3 separate regions of the Homo sapiens genome follow, and regions 2 and 3 are each linked to region 1. Evidence: fine-mapped QTL for protein levels in blood plasma. A gene starts in region 1. Each other region holds a variant in brackets. All regions are shown on one strand. Distances are between the middles of the regions.

The links. PIP is the chance, under the fine-mapping model, that this variant and not a neighbour inherited with it causes the effect. The UK Biobank Pharma Proteomics Project read protein levels with antibody pairs (Olink). The fine-mapping took linkage between variants from a reference panel, not from the people measured, so its PIPs are less certain.
Region 2: its variant is fine-mapped to the plasma level of the KLK6 protein (UK Biobank, PIP above 0.99).
Region 3: its variant is fine-mapped to the plasma level of the KLK6 protein (UK Biobank, PIP above 0.99).

The regions. Positions count from the first base shown.
Region 1 is chr19:50,968,944-50,971,696 of GRCh38, reverse strand. KLK6 (kallikrein related peptidase 6) reads left to right here and starts at 2,106. Exons shown (of 7, transcript NM_002774.4): 1 at 2,106-2,207. The region is part of intron 4 of LOC105372442 (a long non-coding RNA gene); the gene reads right to left.
Region 2 is chr19:54,254,170-54,256,922 of GRCh38, reverse strand. It overlaps LILRB5 (leukocyte immunoglobulin like receptor B5), which reads left to right. Exons shown (of 13, transcript NM_001081442.3): 3 at 150-434; 4 at 581-880; 5 at 1,341-1,637; 6 at 1,886-2,188; 7 at 2,508-2,558. Among named protein-coding and RNA genes, the nearest start is that of LILRB5, 1.7 kb to the left of the region's middle. The variant A/G (reference allele first, on the strand shown) is at 1,120.
Region 3 is chr19:54,250,004-54,252,756 of GRCh38, reverse strand. LILRB5 (leukocyte immunoglobulin like receptor B5) reads left to right here. Exons shown (of 13, transcript NM_001081442.3): 10 at 208-271; 11 at 354-391; 12 at 651-703; 13 at 1,825-2,753. The coding sequence ends at 1,971. Among named protein-coding and RNA genes, the nearest start is that of LILRB5, 5.9 kb to the left of the region's middle. RefSeq lists an enhancer at 646-1,263. The variant A/G (reference allele first, on the strand shown) is at 1,487.

The sequences.
Region 1 (2,753 bases):
CACCCTTATTTTTTGTGGTAAGGACACTTAAAAAATCTTCTGACTTAAAAAAAAAAGTATGGTGATTGGAAAATGTAAATGTGCATGCGTGCTTGGCATCACATTTCATTGGCCAGGACTTCCCTGGATGCTAAAGGTCCTCAAATGCCAGGCTGGGGGGCTGGGACTTGGTCCCAAGGGAGATGGGGACCCAGGGCACGTCTGTGAGAGGAGGGGCAAGGTCAGCACAAGGCACAGGAAGGTCTCTCTGGGGCAAGGGATACAGAGAACAGAGGGATCCTGGTCCAGGTGGGAGAGGTGCAGCTCTGAGTTGGGGTTGAGGGTGTGGGTACAGAGAGGAAGGGACCCCCCAGAGAGAGGAGGCAGAGGGATAGGGCCTGGTCACTGGGTTGTGCAACATCAGACTTGCTGTCTGTGAAGATAGCACGTCCTGAGAAGAAGGTGCTGAGGTCAGTGGGGACCAAATGTGAGAGGGAGCACCCGGAGAGTATACTGAATACCGAAGTAGTCTTCATCCCTGGAGTGATGGGGGGTGCACAATGCAAGATGACAATTAGATTCAATGCAAGACAAAGAAAAGGGTTGGCTGGGAACAGTGGCTCATGCCTATGGTCCCAGCTCCTGGGAAGACTGAGGCGGGAGGGTCGCTTGAGCCCAGGAGGGTTGAGGCTGCCACGAGCAAGGATCGTGCCACTGCACTCCAGCCTAGGCGACAGAACAAGACCTTGTCTCAAAAGAAAAAAGAACTTTTTTTTTTAAGTTACCTGTAGTGCCCAGCCCAAGCAGGTGCTGAGCCAGACTTCATTCCTATCATTGTCCTTATTACGCAGTGACTTCCCCCTCCTCATTTCTCTCCACTCTGCCACGCACACACCCTCACCCTCCAGCCCATACCAACCACCCCAACCACTGCCTGTGGTTTCCCATGTGCACCCAGGCCAGGCATTTTCACGGCCTTTCCTCCTGACCTACGCCTGGCTCAGCTTTCTAGGCCCAAGTTCAAAGACACCTCCCTAAATCTTCCCAGATCCCTCTGCTACTGCCCAGCACCACCATCTTATCACAGCCCCACGTCGTTCCCAAGTGCTCTCCGATTTCTGCTTAACTCCATGCCTCTCGCTGTGTGTCCGCATCTCATCAATAAGTCCTCAAGTCCTCTTCCATCCTGCTAGCTTCCTCATCGCTCGGGAATCATCCCCGCTACTTCCTGGGGAAACTGACTCCCTTCTGGGCACACACAGTGCTACCCCCGGGGAAATCTAAGAAGAGACCCAGGAGAAGATAAGCACGGAGAGTCAGAGAATCAAGGGGAAAGAAAGGGAGAGAGGCCGGGCACAGTGGCTCACACCTGTAATCCAGCACTTTGGGAGGCCAAGGTGGGTGGATCACCTGAGGTCAGGAGTTTGAGACCAGCCTGGCCAACATGGTGAAACCTCTTCCCTACTAAAAATACAAAAAACATTTAGCCGGGCGTGGTGGTGGGTGCCTGTAATCCCAGCTACTTGGGAAGCTGAGGCAGGAGAACTGCTTGAACTCAGGAGGCGGAGGTTGCAGTGAACTGAGATCACACCACTGCACTCCAGCCTGAGTGACAGAGCAAGACTCCGTCAAAAAAAAAGAAAGAAAGAAAGAAAAGAAGGAAGGAAAGAAAGAAGGAAGGAAGGAAGGGAGGAAGGGAGAGAGGAAGGGAGAGAGGAAGGGAGAGAGAGAAAAAAAGAGGGAGAGAGACACAAATACAGAGACTGAGATGGGAGAGAGAGAGAGATGGAAGCTCCCTCCCCTCCATGGCCAGGGAGACAGATGGAGCAAGAGACCTCAGGGGTGGGCAGACTTGGAGGAGAAGGACCAGGAGGATGTGGAGTGCCGAAATCTCCAGTCAGGGCCAGGTGGGCAGTCAGAGACTGCAAAGGAGGACTGTCAGACAGGGACAAAAGGAAGCCATTGATGTAACCGCCCTCCCGCCTGCCCGCCGGAAGAGAGGTTGAGGCCGGAGCTGCTGGGAGCATGGCACTGGGGTGCTGGGGGCGGACAAAGCCCGATTGTTCCTGGGCCCTTTCCCCATCGCGCCTGGGCCTGCTCCCCAGCCCGGGGCAGGGGCGGGGGCCAGTGTGGTGACACACGCTGTAGCTGTCTCCCCGGCTGGCTGGCTCGCTCTCTCCTGGGGACACAGAGGTCGGCAGGCAGCACACAGAGGGACCTACGGGCAGGTGTGTGAGTCACCCCAACCGCACTGAACCTGGGCAGGCTGCTTCCCAGTGCCGGAGGGCTCTAGAGCCCGGAGTGAGGGCCTGCAGGTCCCTGGGTGGCACAGAGAGTGCTGGGGGTGCAGGGAGGCCTGGGGCACCATCTGCTTGCCCCAGAGGCCGGAATTTGTCTTCAGACACTTTCTTTCTCCAAAACCCGGAGGTCTAAGGACTGAGCCGACTAGAACTTCCTCTGCCTCAGATTCAGGCCCCAGCCCCTCCTCCCTCAGACCCAGGAGTTTAGGTCCTAGCCCCTCCTCCCTCAGACCCAGGAGTCCAAGTTCCCACCTCCTCCCTCAGACTCAGGAGTCCAGGCCCCCAGCCCCTCCTCCCTCAGACCCAGGAGTCCAAGTTCTCACCTCCTCCCTCAGACCCAGGAGTCCAGGCCCCAAGCCCCTCCTCCCTCAGACGCAAGGGTCCAGGCCCCCAGCCCCTCCTCCCTCAGACTCAGGAGTCCAGGCCCCCAAGCCCCTCCTCCCTCAGACCCAGGAGTCCAGGCCCTCACTGCAC
Region 2 (2,753 bases), 3.3 Mb before region 1:
ACTGGGGACAAGGGCCCAACCCCGGGCAGCTGGGGGTGGAGATAGCTGTTCTGGGCTGACTGATGGGGACGTCTGGAGGGTCCTGGGGCTGAGAGCTGGAATCTGAGGGATGGGGATGTCTTGGGATCCAGCCTCTGATTCCATTCTAGGCACCCTCCCCAAACCCACCCTCTGGGCTGAGCCAGCCTCTGTGATAGCTCGGGGGAAGCCCGTGACCCTCTGGTGTCAGGGGCCCCTGGAGACTGAGGAGTACCGTCTGGATAAGGAGGGACTCCCATGGGCCCGGAAGAGACAGAACCCACTGGAGCCTGGAGCCAAGGCCAAGTTCCACATTCCATCCACGGTGTATGACAGTGCAGGGCGATACCGCTGCTACTATGAGACCCCTGCAGGCTGGTCAGAGCCCAGTGACCCCCTGGAGCTGGTGGCGACAGGTGAGAGGACACTCAGGGGTCCCAGCCCCAGGCTCTGCCCTCAGGAAGAGGGTCGGCTCTTAGGGACGTCTACCTCTCACAGCCCAGCCCTGGGGATGATGTGGGAGGTCGGAGCCCCACTTAAGACGTGCCTCCTTCTCTGCTAGGATTCTATGCAGAACCCACTCTTTTAGCCCTGCCGAGTCCTGTGGTGGCCTCAGGAGGAAATGTGACCCTCCAGTGTGATACACTGGACGGACTTCTCACGTTTGTTCTTGTTGAGGAAGAACAGAAGCTCCCCAGGACCCTGTACTCACAGAAGCTCCCCAAAGGGCCATCCCAGGCCCTGTTCCCTGTGGGTCCCGTGACCCCCAGCTGCAGGTGGAGGTTCAGATGCTATTACTATTACAGGAAAAACCCTCAGGTGTGGTCGAACCCCAGTGACCTCCTGGAGATTCTGGTCCCAGGTGAAAAAGCCACCACACTTCTTTATATAATTTTGGGGAACCAGATAGGTTGTTGGGAGTTTGGTTGATGACTGATCATGGCAAGGACCCCAGAAGGATGTGTTGATGGATGGGCTGAAGGCGTGAGGAAGACCCCACGGGGAGGCTCAGATGGGGAAACAGGAGCCTGAGTCACCCTCACCTGGAAGGGGTCGACTCAGGAAGGCAATGGGTGTATTTGCTGCAATTTCCTGTCCCTC[A/G]ATGAGGAGAGGACAGACCAGACAGACAGTGGCCAGGAGTCAGAGAGACACTATCGGTCTGGAACTACTCCAAGACAGACCCAGGTGAGAAGGAGGCCCCGGGATCCGAGACACAGAGCGTGAGAGACAGTGAGACCTGCAGGGCCAGGACGCCAGGACGGGAGAAGGAAGGGGCGGGGGAGGAACCAGCCTTCCAAGTCCCAATTCCTCTTTCCCTCCAGGCGTGTCTAGGAAGCCCTCCCTCCTGATCCCGCAGGGCTCTGTCGTGGCCCGCGGAGGCAGCCTGACCCTGCAGTGTCGCTCTGATGTCGGCTATGACATATTCGTTCTGTACAAGGAGGGGGAACATGACCTCGTCCAGGGCTCTGGCCAGCAGCCCCAGGCTGGGCTCTCCCAGGCCAACTTCACCCTGGGCCCTGTGAGCCGCTCCCACGGGGGCCAGTACAGATGCTACGGTGCACACAACCTCTCCCCTAGGTGGTCGGCCCCCAGCGACCCCCTGGACATCCTGATCGCAGGTGAGGAGCCCAGCGGGTTCAGTCAGGGACCCAGGCTCTGCACAGGTCCTGCCGGGGGAATCCAATTAGTGATGGCCGGGATGAGGCGGGGGGGTGGTCCCAAGGGAGGGAGAGACAGACAGAGACAGGGGATGGGTGGGGAGGGGAAGACTCAGAGAAAACAGAGACAGAGGCTCCTAGAGAGGCCTGGGGAGGTCTCAGCTCAGAGCAAGGTGGGGCAGCCCCTCACCCATCCTTCTTCTCTCCAGGACTGATCCCTGACATACCCGCCCTCTCGGTGCAGCCGGGCCCCAAGGTGGCCTCAGGAGAGAACGTGACCCTGCTGTGTCAGTCATGGCATCAGATAGACACTTTCTTTTTGACCAAGGAGGGGGCAGCCCATCCCCCGCTGTGTCTAAAGTCAAAGTACCAGTCTTATAGACACCAGGCTGAATTCTCCATGAGTCCTGTGACCTCAGCCCAGGGTGGAACCTACCGATGCTACAGCGCAATCAGGTCCTACCCCTACCTGCTGTCCAGCCCTAGTTACCCCCAGGAGCTCGTGGTCTCAGGTGAGGGCCCTGACCCTGTCCTGTCCAAGCTCAAAGGCTCAGCTCAGGCCCTGCCCCCAGGAGAGCTCTGGGCTGGGATGGAGTCGCGGTGCGGGGGGGAGGGTTTGAGGGGGGCTCAGCCAGAGGGAGACTCACCCCTCAGAGGGGAGGAGGACAACGGGGGCTCCCCAGGCATGCCCACACTTGGCCCCATCTCCTGGGATGCAAATGGTGAAAGGTGAGCAGAAGAAAGTTTCCAGAGAAGCCACGGGCAGGTGGAGGGACGGGTTTCCTCACTCAGCACCAAAGCGCCTCGCTCCCTTTCTGTGCTTATTCCCAGGACCCTCTGGGGATCCCAGCCTCTCACCTACAGGCTCCACCCCCACACCTGGTGAGTCACTGAGGCCTCTGGGCTCGGAGGGAGCGTGGTCTCCCCCCAGGCAGCCCTGAGTCTCCCCGAGGATCCTATTCCCCTCAAAGACTCAAGCGGGAGCTTCCCTCCAGGGAGCTGGGCAGAGCCAGAGGAGGGGCCACAGGCTCCCCGGGGCTCTGAGGCTGGGCCGGTGAGGGGGCGGGCGTCGAGGCA
Region 3 (2,753 bases), 3.3 Mb before region 1:
CAGGTGAAAAATCGATCGAGAAAGAAGAGAATAAATGTGAGCATGTGTGGAAGTGCTTGATTCTTCTGATTTTACTTTAAACTTACGACGTATTTAAAGCCTCAGTGCCAGTGGGCCTCCAGGTTTCCTTCTTTCCGCTCGAGTTGTGTGTGCAGGGCAGCTGGTTCGAATTCTCCCAGGCCTGACCCTCTGTCCATCTCTGTCCAGCCCATTTCTACCGTCCTGCAGGGGCTGCGGGGCCAGAGCCCAAGGACCAGGGCCTGCAGAAGAGGTAATTCTGCATGAAGACCCAAGACTCCCATCCACCCGCACAGCCCCCTCACTGCCCCTCACACTCCCGTGTCCTCCCCCAGGGCCAGCCCAGTTGCTGACATCCAGGAGGAAATTCTCAGTGAGTGACTAGAAGCGGAGGGCACCTGGGGTGGGCAAGGGAGCACCAAAGTTTCTGTAGCAATGGGGGCAGGAGCACAGGCTGGGGGGGGTCTGGGGCCAAGGGGGAGGCGGTCTGAACCCACACTGTGGGACCTCAGGGACATCACAGTCCCTCCCTGGATCTCAGCCACCCTAGTGGGAACAGGGCAAGGGCTGGCAGGACGGAGAAGTCTCAGAGAACCTTCCCAGGAGATGAACCCCTTGCTCTGGCCCAGCAGATGCTGCCGTGAAGGACACACAGCCCAAGGACGGGGTGGAGATGGATGCTCCGGTGAGGCCCCGCCCCTGTCCCGGGCACCAAAGGCCTCCTGGTGCCAGATCTAATCCAGCAGGACTTCTCTGTCCTCCTTCCCCCGGCTCTCAGCATCGTCACGGTGGACCCCTCCTTGTCCAGCACGCTGCCTCCCGCCTGCTGCGACCTCACTCTCTTCTGCTGTCCTGGGACCTCGTGGGCCTCCTCCCGGGTCCCCTTCCTGCTCCTCATCCTCTGTTTGGCCGTCTGGTTGTTAGAGCTCTCCCCAGGCCTCAGGAGGATGAGGAATAAATGAACCGACCCGGTCCCCCAGGCTCCCCTTCATTCATTCAACCAGCGAGTGTTCCCAGGGAGCTCACTGTGGATGGGGCTCCCCATGGGAGCTGCAGACACAGCAGGGAGCAAAGCCGCCCCCGCCTCCTGAGCTCACCTCATGGTGGGAGACAAAATGCAAATAAATGCATCGTGTCCAGGAGTGCAACGTGCTGTAAGGAACATAAACCAGGGAAAGGGCAGAGAGTGTGGGGCAGTGGGGCCAGTCTGAATGGAAGGGGAGGGCTGTCTGCTCAGCTGTCATCTGAGAAGCCTGGACAGAGTGGGGCACACGATCCTCTGATGGACGAGCCCCTGCAGGCAGAGGAAACAGCCGTGCAAAGGCCCCGAGGCAGCAGCGAGCTCTTGCGGGAAGGCCCGTGAGGCTGCAGCCAAATGGGCAAGGTCAGAGTGAGGAGCAGAGGCCAGAACCACAGGGAGGGAGCGGCCAGACCCTCCACGGCCTTAGGGCGTCCCTGAGATTCCATC[A/G]GGAAAGGGATGTAATCGGATCACCCCGGGAACAGTGAGGAAAATTGACTCCAGGAGGTCAGGGGGACTCAAGGACACCCCCCACCACTGTCTCTCTCCAGCAGAGCCCACACGATGAAGACCCCCAGGCAGTGACGTATGCCCCGGTGAAACACTCCAGACCTAGGAGAGAAATGGCCTCTCCTCCTTCCCCACTGTCTGGGGAATTCCTGGACACAAAGGACAGACAGGCAGAAGAGGACAGACAGATGGACACTGAGAGAGTCCTTTCCTCTCCAGGCCCCCAGGCCTCCCCCACCCCCACCACGTTCCTTCCCTCTCACTCTCCCCCGCTGCAGGCTGCTGCATCTGAAGCCCCCCAGGATGTGACCTACGCCCAGCTGCACAGCTTGACCCTCAGACGGGAGGCAACTGAGCCTCCTCCATCCCAGGAAAGGGAACCTCCAGCTGAACCCAGCATCTACGCCCCCCTGGCCATCCACTAGCCCACGGGGGACCCAGATCTCATACTCAACAGAAGGAGACTCAGAGACTCCAGAAGGCACAGGAGCTGCCCCCAGTGGACACCAATGAACCCCAGCCAGCCTGGACCCCTAACAAAGACCACCAGGACATCCTGGGAACTCTGGGACTCACTAGATTCTGCAGTCAAAGATGACTAATATCCTTGCATTTTTGAAATGAAGCCACAGACTTCTCAATAAATCAATGAGCTGAGAAAACTGAAACAGAAATTAGAGCATGGTATAAATTTGGAATGATAATGTAAATATTACACATTAAATGATGAAATCGGAAAACTACAAATGAGCGAATGAATTAGAAAAGAATAAAACCTACGTAATTAATGACCTTGGCAATGACAGAAAGAATTTAGAAAAAGAACAACAAATTATTCCAAATGAAGGTGTGAGGAAGGGGACAAAAATAACAAGAGGAGTTACTAATGAGGGCTACGTGAAAACTCGATGAAGCCAAAAAAGCTCATTCTTGAGAATGTGAATTACATTCACAAATCCTAGCCACAATAAGCAAGGAAAAAAGCGGGGTTCAGGCACACATTTCCATATGGGGGTGAAACAGCAGACACCACCACAAATCTGACACATATTGCCTTTATTTTTTTCACTTTTAAGTTCAGGGATACATGTGCAGGTTTGTTAGACAGATAAACTTGTGTCAAGGGGATTTGTCTTGGTTTTTGTGTGAGGGTTTTTGTTTTGTTTTGTTTTGTTTTTTGAGACGGAGTCTCGCTCTATCACCAGGC